Linked DNA regions of Homo sapiens: region 1 is linked to region 2. The links come from fine-mapping of genetic effects on gene expression. Tissue or cell type: breast. Region 2 holds a variant in brackets; the other region holds the start of a gene. All regions are shown on one strand. Distances are between the middles of the regions.

Region 1 (5,378 bases), 140 kb after region 2:
TACATGCACACATAGATATCAGTTCATGGGACTCACTCTCCTGTTTAAGATATGACCAGAGGCTTGTAACGACAATGTAGAATTCTAAGACAGCACAATAAAACAATCATAAACTAACCACTTCCCTTTGCCAAGTTTAGCAAAGTGGATGGAACAGGAAAAAAGATGTTCATGATAATCCTATTTCATATAGATTAAGGCTGGATTAAGGTGCAGCCATTCAGATAAGGGGAGGGGTATTAAATTATCCGAAGGTCTCATTTGGTTACTATTATTTCTTAAGGCTTTTTTAAGGCTAAAGACGGCTGAAAGTCACTGGACACCTTTGTAGCCTTGTCATCTGGTCCTGGCCAGATCTGAGTTGAGAAAAACCAGCCTCAGATCCGCCTCTGCAGGAGTTGGGCGCTCCCCACTCCCTGCACGCCCCGACTCCAACACTGGCTTCAGCTTCAATCCCAGAAAAGTGGATCAAAACGACAGGTTCCACGAACAAACACTGCGCCGGCGCCTCTACTTTGGAGAAAAGGAAAAGGGCGTGAGGTTTCGGTCATTTTTGTCAAAGGAAATCAGATGAAAAGGGGTGTACAAAGGACCAGGTCTCGTGAGCGCAGCCAATCTTGTCCGCTCCCAAGCGACTCAGGCTCTTGGCAGGACTTGCTGTAGAGTCCCAGACGGAGTTAGCCACTGAGTCCTTCAGCGACCCAGGAAATAACAACACTGTTGGCAGGTGGGGGAGGGCGCCCGGGAAGATATCCAATAGTGGCGTCAGGCAAGAGGACAGAAATGCTCCTTTCATTCACCTTTCGAAGCAGAGCATTTGGTCCCCGTTGGCCTCTGACTCTCTGTTGCGGCAATCTAGATGTTACCAGAATTCCCGTGTTTCCTTCATATTCAAAGGCACAGGAAATCTGGGGTGCAAGCGGACTGCTGTCTCTCAAGGAATAGAAGTCTGTGACAAACGTATAGAAATGAGTTTCATGTTGAACAAGATCCGTTTCTGCGTTCCTCCCTCATCCAGCCTTGATTCTCCAGATGCTTACCAACTTCTTAATATTTACCTCAACTGCAAGGCTTTCAACCGGCGCTTTTGTTAGAATACTACTATCTTCCCATTAAAGCAATGTCCACACTCAGTTTGCTTGGTGAAAATGTTAATAACGCACACTTAGAAAAACGGTGATAACCGTTGCTTGCATAAAGTGGCCATTTGAATAGACTTTGGATCTGATTTAGAGATTTAGGGATGGATGTTTTAAAAAAAGCAAAAGTAGTAACAGACTATAGCATTGGTAATGTGTGTGTGCATATATACATATTATTTTTAAAAAAATAAAGTTCGATTATTTCACCTGGCTTGTCAGTCACCTATGCAGGCGTCTGAGCCCCCGGGTTTCCAGGAGCCCCCCGTATAAGGACCCCAGGGACTCCTCTCCCCACGCGGCCGGGCCGCCCGCCCGGCCCCCAGCCCGGAGAGCTGCCACCGACCCCCTCAACGTCCCAAGCCCCAGCTCTGTCGCCCGCGTTCCTTCCTCTTCCTGGGCCACAATCTTGGCTTTCCCGGGCCGGCTTCACGCAGTTGCGCAGGAGCCCGCGGGGGAAGACCTCTCGTGGGGACCTCGAGCACGACGTGCGACCCTAAATCCCCACATCTCCTCTGCCGCCTCGCAGGCCACATGCACCGGGAGCCGGGCGGGGCAGGCGCGGCCCGCAAGGACCCCCGCGATGGAGACGCAACACTGCCGCGACTGCACTTGGGGCAGCCCCGCCGCGTCCCAGCCGCCTCCCGGCAGGAAGCGTAGGTGTGTGAGCCGACCCGGAGCGAGCCGCGCCCTCGGGCCAGCGTGGGCAGGGCGCCGCAGCCTGCGCAGCCCCGAGGACCCCGCGTCGCTCTCCCGAGCCAGGGTTCTCAGGAGCGGGCCGCGCAGGAGACGTTAGAGGGGGTTGTTAGCGGCTGTTGGGAGAACGGGTCACGGAAACAGTCCCTTCCAAAGCCGGGGCCATCGTGGGGTGGGCGAGTCCGCCCTCCCAGGCCGGGGGCGCGGACCAGAGGGGACGTGTGCAGACGGCCGCGGTCAGCCCCACCTCGCCCGGGCGGAGACGCACAGCTGGAGCTGGAGGGCCGTCGCCCGTTGGGCCCTCAGGGGCCTGAACGCCCAGGGGTCGCGGCGAGTCCACCCGGAGCGAGTCAGGTGAGCAGGTCGCCATGGCGATGCGGCCCCGGAGAGCGCACGCCTGCCGCGGTCGGCATGGAAACGCTCCCGCTAGGTCCGGGGGCGCCGCTGATTGGCCGATTCAACAGACGCGGGTGGGCAGCTCAGCCGCATCGCTAAGCCCGGCCGCCTCCCAGGCTGGAATCCCTCGACACTTGGTCCTTCCCGCCCCGCCCTTCCGTGCCCTGCCCTTCCCTGCCCTTCCCCGCCCTGCCCCGCCCGGCCCGGCCCGGCCCTGCCCAACCCTGCCCCGCCCTGCCCCGCCCAGCCGGCCACCTCTTAACCGCGATCCTCCAGTGCACTTGCCAGTTGTTCCGGACACATAGAAAGATAACGACGGGAAGAGCGGGGCCCGCTTTGGGGTCCAGGCAGGTTTTGGGGCCTCCTGTCTGGTGGGAGGAGGCCGCAGCGCAGCACCCTGCTCGTCACTTGGGATGGAGACCGGCTTTCCCGCAATCATGTACCCTGGATCTTTTATTGGGGGCTGGGGAGAAGAGTATCTCAGCTGGGAAGGACCGGGGCTCCCAGATTTCGTCTTCCAGGTAACGTGGGTTTAGTATCCCGACTTGGAGGCTTGTCAGAATGTTTCTCTCCTTCCAGCCCAACACGAAGTCTTGGGATAAAAAGCCTCCCTCAGGGATTCAAATAACTGTTTTGATTCAGAGCAACTTTGATCGCCTGTGCGGTCGCACCTGCCCTTTCAGCCCCAATAATTACTGGGAAGATCAGCAATTGGTGTTAGTCCCATTGCTTGGTGCTCTCCCTCCTAGAGGTTCGCTGTGTCCTTGGAGCCCGGGGTGGACGGAATCGACTAAACAGCTTGTCTGTTTCTCTTTCCCTGGTAGCAGCAGCCCGTGGAGTCTGAAGCAATGCACTGCAGCAACCCCAAGAGTGGAGTTGTGCTGGCTACAGTGGCCCGAGGTCCCGATGCTTGTCAGATACTCACCAGAGCCCCGCTGGGCCAGGATCCCCCGCAGAGGACAGTGCTAGGGCTGCTAACTGCAAATGGGCAGTACAGGAGGACCTGTGGCCAGGTAATGACTCAGACGCATTGAGAATGATGCTTGTGGAGAACAGCTCTCCTGCTTTGGTGCCAGGTGCTTTTCTCTTGCCCTTGTACCTACAACTCCCCCTGAGTATTACAACCCTGGAATCTGGACTACAGGAAAGTTGATTGATTTATTTTCTTTCTTTCTTTCTTTCTTTCTTTCTTTCTTTCTTTCTTTCTTTCTTTCTTTCTTTCTTTCTTTCTTTCGTTCTTTCTTTCTTTCTTTTCTTTCTCTTTCTTTCCTTCTTTCTTTTTCTTTGTTTCTCTTCCTTCTTCCTTTCCTTTTTTTTTCTTTCCTTTCCTTTCCTTCTTTTTTTTTTTTTGAGACGGAGTTTCGCTCTTGTCGCCAGGCTGGAGTGCAGTGACGCGATCTCGGCTCACTGCAACCTCCACCTCCCGGGTTCAAGCGATTCTCCTGCCTCAGCCTCCCGAGTAGCTGGGATTTCAGGCACCCACCACCACGCCCGGCTAATTTTTGTGTTTTTAGTAGAGATGGGATTTCACCATGTTGGCCAGGCTGGTCACCAACTCCTGACCTCAGGTGACCCGCCCACCTCGGCCTCCCAAAGTGTTGGGATTACAGGCGTCAGCCACGGTGGCAGGCCAGTTGATTTCTTAAGATCACCTTGAGGGGTTCGGTTTTCAGCTAGAAATAGTGATTAGTTTTCTTTGTTATTTTTTCCACTATCAAGGAAATAGGTCTAGGAACTGTTTGGGTTATGTATATTAAAGTAATTTAAGGGCTGGGCTAAAAGGAAATGTGAATGCTTCCAAATAAACTGTGGAACTGGGGTTCCTCCAGGTTAGAGCAGTGTTCACATTGATGCAGGCTGTGCCTAAAGCAAACCTGGATAATCTTGGCTGTGTTCATTGCGGATAGTGTTAAAATCAGGATTAGATCAGGCTAGATTAGATTACTCCAAAATGGGTGCTTTGAAGGCAGACATCTTCCCAGTACTGACTAAGCAGCTATGCTAACAGGTAATGGTCCCTCAGATATTAGTTGTGTGAACTTAACTGATCATAGATACCTTAACCAGACTGAAAACTATACCTTTCCTATTTCATAAGTGAGAAAATCTGAAAGGTTTAAGCCTCTGCCAAAAGAAAGCTATGGTAGAAACTAGATTAGAAGCCTCTCATCTACTGACTCTTCACATGCTCTGTTCAAAGCTTTGGAGAAAATTGAGTGGAAGTGGTTTTAACAAATTTTAATTTGCTTAGCAATGTTTGCTTTTTAAAACTTAACGCCTGAGACTTGGTTCTTATGAATTGTCAGTTGTGCCTGTGTTGAATGGTCGCATTTTAAATTCCCAGTTGCTAACCTCTTATGTTACCTGGTGCCACTTCTGCATTTCCCTGTACCTATCCTCTACAACCTGCTTAGAAATCTATTTTGTACCTTCCCTTCTCTGTTTAATCCTCAGTAACCTCCTCCTTCATGCCCAGTCTCAGCTGATCACTTTGTATCTTATTTTCCTAAAAATATAGAAGCAAGCAGAAGAGAATCTCCACATGTCCCTGTGTGCCATATAATCTGCCATCTACATCCTGTTATGTGACTGCTATGTCCCTGCTGTCATGAGAGGTGCCCCCCCCCCCGCGCCATGCGTACAATATACTCGTGTCTTCTTGCTTCTTCAAGGATGTTACTCTAGCCACTTTTCTTTCTCTCATGAGTTTTTTCTTTTCTACTGGGCCAAATCTGTAAGCATACAAATATATTGCCATTTTCCCATCTTAAAAACCTTTCAACTAAACGCTCCCTCTGAGTATTACAACCCTGGAATCTGGACCACAGGGAAGAAGTTGACTTTGTAAAATCACCTTGACCGGTCCCTTTTTCAGCTAGAAATGGTGACGAATTTTCTTTGTTAGTTTTCCAATATCAAGGAAATAGGTCTAGGAGCTGTTTGCATTATGTCGATTAAAGTAATTTAAGTGCTTAAAGAAATTTAAGTAATGGGACAGAAGCTATCCCATTTAAAGCCACATATCTTGAGAGTTTGTCGTATCTTGACATATATAATGTTGCCTTTCCCACTAACATGTAAGCTCCATCCAGGTGTTGATTTAGGTTGTCATGTTCACTGTTGTGTGTCCATTACTTTGAACAGACC
Region 2 (5,378 bases):
TTGGACATGGTTATTTTGGATGGGAATCTGGCCACTTGTCCATTATTAGTTTTGGTCAATGAAGTCACTTTCTCTCTACTGGACCTCGCTTTTGTTAATTGAACTATGCAATCAGCACTTACAATTGCTGGTTACAATTTTAGTGTCCCGTATGGTGAGTGCTGTATGCTCCAGGGCCTGAGCCTGCCAGTCTGGTTTCTATCAGATGGGGCATAGGGCCACCTGTGAATACTAGTTGCTGATGGCTAGCTGACCCATGGCTAGGATATTAGGGAATTTCCCAGCAGCTGCCAAGACTCTTTTGTCTTAGGGATCCTCTCTTTTCTTCCTGCTATGGTGTCTGCTACCTTCAATGCTTCACTGGTGCAAAGAAAGTGACCTCTGGAGAAGCTGAGAAACTATGGAACTAGGTGCATTAGTCAGAGTGTACCCAACCACCTTCTGCCTCTTTTGGGGTGTCGCTGGGGCTCTGCTTTATTTAGACTTGGCTGCCAGTGAAACTATATGAGCATTTTATGCATTGGTTTTGTTTGTATTTGCTGCACCCTTGGGCCTTTGCTCAGTTCTGACTCAGTTGCCTGGGGGAGCCATTTGAAACTGAAATGAGGGATTTCGGAGTCTACACAGCCCCTTAACCAGGGATTTGTTTGGATGCACACCACCTGTTTGTCCGTGTGTGAGATCTTTGTGCACCCTGATCTCTTTGTCTCTCTTTCTCTCTCTCTTTCCCCTTTTTTCCAACTTCATCATCCTGATTATCTCAGAAGCCATCTACAGCCCTACTCTTCTCAGCCAAAACCACCCTTCGCTCCCTCTGGCTGGAAACAGTTTACCTTGACTGGTGACTTGAGGAAATGGGAGGGATTCATCCCACACCCTTCAGTTCTAGGGTGCTGAGGCTCTCCCTAAGAGGAGATAAACAAGAGAGGTAGGGGTACTGTGCAGTGGCTGGAAGGCTCATAAACCTCCCTTCCTTCTTTTCTCTTTCCTCTTCCTGCCCATAAAACCTGACCTCCTTTCTCCTCTCCACTCCTTTCTTTTTCTCTTTTCCTGTTCAAACCAGGAAACCAGTACTGAAGAGAAAAAACAATTTTCAACATCCTGGCCCCTGATTTTGTCATCCTCTTTGGGACTGCAGCTGATTACATATGGTGCATTTTTGTGTACATTTTAAACTGACGGGCAAATTACAGCAAGAAAAATTTAGAGCTCAAATAGTTAACCTGAAGCTATAGAGTTAAGTAGAGTCTTCTAAAGCTATCTTCCCTCTTCCCCTCTTTTCTGCCTGCTTTAAATCTGCTGTTACTAAGCTGCTGGTGCTAGGACTCATTTATGATCTAACTAGAATGTAAACACTGGAAAGTTGTTTGAAACTGAAAATAAAAAATAACAAGGGTAAAAGCGGTTTAAAAAAACTGCCATAGAGACTCCTTTACCCAAAATTTTGGTTCACAAATTTCCTTGGATTACCTATTAGGGCAAATGAAGTTTGGCCATATGAACAGGTTCCAATTTTGTCAGAAAAAGAACTTGAAGCCAGCTATCTTTTGTAGGTCTGTGAGTTTGTAATGCTGTCTCATGGCTGGAGTTCCAAGGTAAAAGCTATTGGTTATTTCTTTGTGCATGTATGTATACATGTTTAGATATATTTATGTAATATTCATGTATTATGTTCTGCGTTGTGTCTAGCATGTTATCAAACTGGCTTATAAGTAAATGAGTACTCAAAAATTAAGTCCAAATGCTTTTCAAGTGCATGTGAATTTTTAATAAATAAAAGTGGTTTTAAAATTATTGATAAAAATAGAAAGGTCTTCAGAATTGTCCCCATACATTTTTGTCTAAGTGGTTTTATATTTGTATCAGTGTGTATACAAAGGTGTCAAGGGTTGACATAAAGGTTCTAAGACTTTAAACTCAACCAAAAACAGAATAATCTTTGTGTATTTTTTTTTGACAAATAAGACTAACTTGTTAGTTCAATGAAACAGCTAAATCTTCAGAGTCATCAGCAAATACATTTAATTTTAAGGTTCTTAATTAGGTGCTCACCATTTAGTGTTCAGATTTTAAAAATGGTTAATAGGGAAATAACTTTATTATTTATTTTTAATTTTTTTTTTTGAGATGGAGTCTCGCTCTGTCACCCAGGCTAGAGTGCAGTGGCGCAATCTTGGCTCACTGCAAGCTCCACCTCCCTGATTCACGCCATTCTTCTGCCTCAGCCTCCCGAGTAGCTGGGACTACAGGCGCCCATCACCATGCCTGGCTAATTTTTCTGTATTTTTTTAGTAGAGACAGGGTTTCACCATGTTAGCCACCAGGATGGTCTCGATCTTCTGACCTCATTATCCGCCCGCCGCAGCCTCCCAAAGTGCTGGGATTACAGGCGTGAGCCACCGTGCCCGACCCGGAAATAACTTTAAATAATGATTAGTTTTGTGTAATATCTCAGTTTTCAGAAGTAATCTAGATAAACTATTAAGAAATGGAAAAGGTGAATACATGTAAATGAGATAAATGCTTGTAAGTGGACTTTTTGTGTAAGTTAAAATCTTAAAATTATTTTGAATTAAATAATAGATGCTCCAATCCAATAGATAATAATTTGATTTCTGGGACATTTCCAATTAAGAAAAGATTATGATATGGGAAAACATATTTCTAAAATTGTAGAATGGTTTCATCCAGAAAATCCTAACATCTGATAAACAGTTCAGGATTTCTTGCTTCCTAAGTTTTCACTAAAATTTAAGGTTACTAAGAATTCTAATATATAATTCTGCAAGTTGTGTTCTCATTTTTTAAAAAAGAGTAATTTAAGTAATTCAAAGGTTATTTAAAAGTTATTTCTAAAAGAAGGTAAAAAAGAATCAGTGAGTAGGGGAGAGAGATATAAAGAAAGTTGTGGATACAAAAATGTATTTATAATAAAAAAGTTATAAAACAAGCAAATAATTTTACATGAGAAAGATTTTATATAGTAAATTCTTATCCTAAAATAAAATGGCTAGTTATTCAGAAAACAGAAAATTTTAGGACAAGTCAGAAAGTCCAAGCATGTAATAAATGGTCTATGTAAGTTATGATAAGGTTCATAAAAGGAAAATTACAAAAGCTATTTTATATATTAAGTTGGCTATAATTAGAAGGGAATTATTTTTAATAGTCTTTCTAAGATTGATCCCCTATCTTAAAACAAGGTTTTCTTAAGGTATTACTTTTCTCTTAATAAAATTACAAGAGATTTTTAAAATTTTAGAAACTGTTTCTTTTAAAAGCTTCTCAGAATCATA[T/C]CTCAGAAGTTCAACTATTGCTGTCTCACTGCTTTCAGCTTTTTCTCCCCCTGAGAAGGTCTGAGATGACAGCTCTCTCCTTCAGCTTCTAAATTAGCTTCTGTAACTTTTTTCCTCTGGTTCCACTGTTGTGGCCTGATGCTAAAATGTTTTATCTTAAAGGTCTAGAAAAGCAATATTTTCCTTCAGTATAATTTGATTCTGTACTCTTGGCTTTCTTGATAGATGTAAATTTTTCAATGTAATCAAGAAACTTCTCATGCAGTTACTAAGAACTATGTATTCCTCTGCTATACTCATAACCCTGAACACATTCTTCCTATGTCTGATTAAATTCAAGAATATTTTTCATCAGGTTTAACTTCCAGGTTGTCTAAATAGGCTTCCTATAAGGAAAAGTAGTCACACTGCAGGTTTTTCTTTGCCTTTCTGGTAACTGGCGTAAGAAACAACATTTTACTTTTTATCAAAATAATTCATATGTTGTCTTCATTAGATTTTTAACTGCTTAGAAAAACTGAGACCTAAAAGGCTGAAAGTTGTTATATGCATGTAACCTTCTGTATTGCCTTTAAGTCTTTCAATAATCATTTTGGTTAAATTAGTAACTATTGGTTTACAATGACCTGTGGATCTGTTTTAATCAAATGTTTTGAGCCCTTTAACATTTTTAAGAAACATCTTCAAAATTGAAACAAAAATTAAGTCTCTGGCTTATTGCTGGTGTTTATCAAAGCTATAAAAGTTAATCACTGCAAGGTTATAGAATCTTTTTACAGCTTCCAGTCAAGTCATAGACTCCAGTGTCACCACCTCCAGCCCCTTAAAAAAAAGGTCCTTATCAGGTGTTATTAACTAATCCTTGTGCTATGAAGTTACAGGGCTTTGACTCCTGGGTACACATATCTCATCTAAAGAAGGCAGTGACTCCTGCCAGTATCTGACAGCAAATCTAAGTTAACCGAAGCCCCATTTTTAGATCTGGGCAAAGATGACAATCATAGTAAACTACTTTCATGAGACACAGGGACACGCCTGTACCACAAAAAAATTAAGATTCTCTTAATAATTTTGCCTCTATCTAAAATAATATAATTTATTCTGTGCCTAAATAAATAGATACTAAATAATTTAAATGTTTAAATTTAGTGCCTAAATTGACACTAAATAATTTAAATGTTTAGCTACCTATAAGTTTCCTTTCCTGTAACTGTCAGAACTAGGCAGGGCTTATTACCTTTTTGTTTGAAACACTGCTAATACTTTACATTTTTTTTTACCTCCAGAATTTGAAACTATTGAATCCCTCCAGGCCCAGGGGCTATCGCAGAAGTGTATCATTGTAAGGGCCAGATTTTGAGGGATAAAATTAATTAAGACCCTCCAAATCAAGGACAGACACACAGATGCCTAAACAGCTGAACAATATGCTTGTGTTTTGTACAGCTAATTGCTATAAGTCAAGATTACAGTATCTCAATGCAGAGAATTTATAGATAACTCAACTTTATAATCTTATTTTTTGAGTTTTGGTTTTTGGCTCTTATGTTGCCTAAAAGGGGTTTTAAAGATTACTGAATACCTGCTCACCTCCACTCCCATCTGGCCTAAAACGTTTAATTGGATTTAAGTCTTTGACTCTAAGTTCCTTGGCAATAGGGGTCCCACTGAGAGGCACGATGGACCAGGGGCAAGTAGCCACACCATCCCAGAACTTAAGTTAATAAAAGCTTAGCTATGGATACCACCTCTGCATACCTTGACCAAAAAAGGGGGAATATAAACTAAAAAAAAAAAAAATCCTAAGCCCCCTCAACAGACTGAATGTATCCACCTCTTGGCCAAAGGGAATCCCAAAGAAACCTGACAAACTAGTTCAGGCCATTATGAGAAGTGGAGGGTTGGACATGCCACACTATACCTTCCCCCAATTTGGAGTTTAGGCACAAATGACCAGCATTAACATTAAAATAGAGATCACATAAGACTGACAAGACAGACTCTGTAGCAATAAGATACACACTGTTATGTTTCACTTACTAACAAAGTCTCTCAGAAGCTCAGCAAACATGTGTTAATGCT

Direction of the effects. Alleles are on the strand shown, and positions count from the first base shown. SD is a standard deviation of normalised expression in the study named.
As copies of C replace T in region 2, the expression in breast of the gene that starts at base 2,518 in region 1 goes up (small effect, 0.36 SD a copy in GTEx).

What was found. PIP is the estimated chance that this variant, and not a neighbour inherited with it, causes the effect.
Region 1: CCNA1 starts here. The variant in region 2 is the best candidate, but not a certain one, in a credible set for the expression of CCNA1 in breast (GTEx, PIP 0.55).

Annotation. Positions count from the first base shown.
Region 1 is chr13:36,429,978-36,435,355 of GRCh38, forward strand. It overlaps CCNA1 (cyclin A1), which reads left to right and starts at 2,518. Exons shown (of 9, transcript NM_001413923.1): 1 at 2,518-2,752; 2 at 3,056-3,244. The coding sequence starts at 3,080. RefSeq lists silencers at 1,822-1,891, 2,172-2,221, 2,252-2,411.
Region 2 is chr13:36,285,903-36,291,280 of GRCh38, forward strand. The region is part of intron 1 of CCDC169-SOHLH2 (CCDC169-SOHLH2 readthrough); the gene reads right to left. All of the region lies in intron 2 of CCDC169 (coiled-coil domain containing 169), which reads right to left. Among named protein-coding and RNA genes, the nearest start is that of CCDC169, 9.2 kb to the right of the region's middle. The variant T/C (reference allele first, on the strand shown) is at 3,297.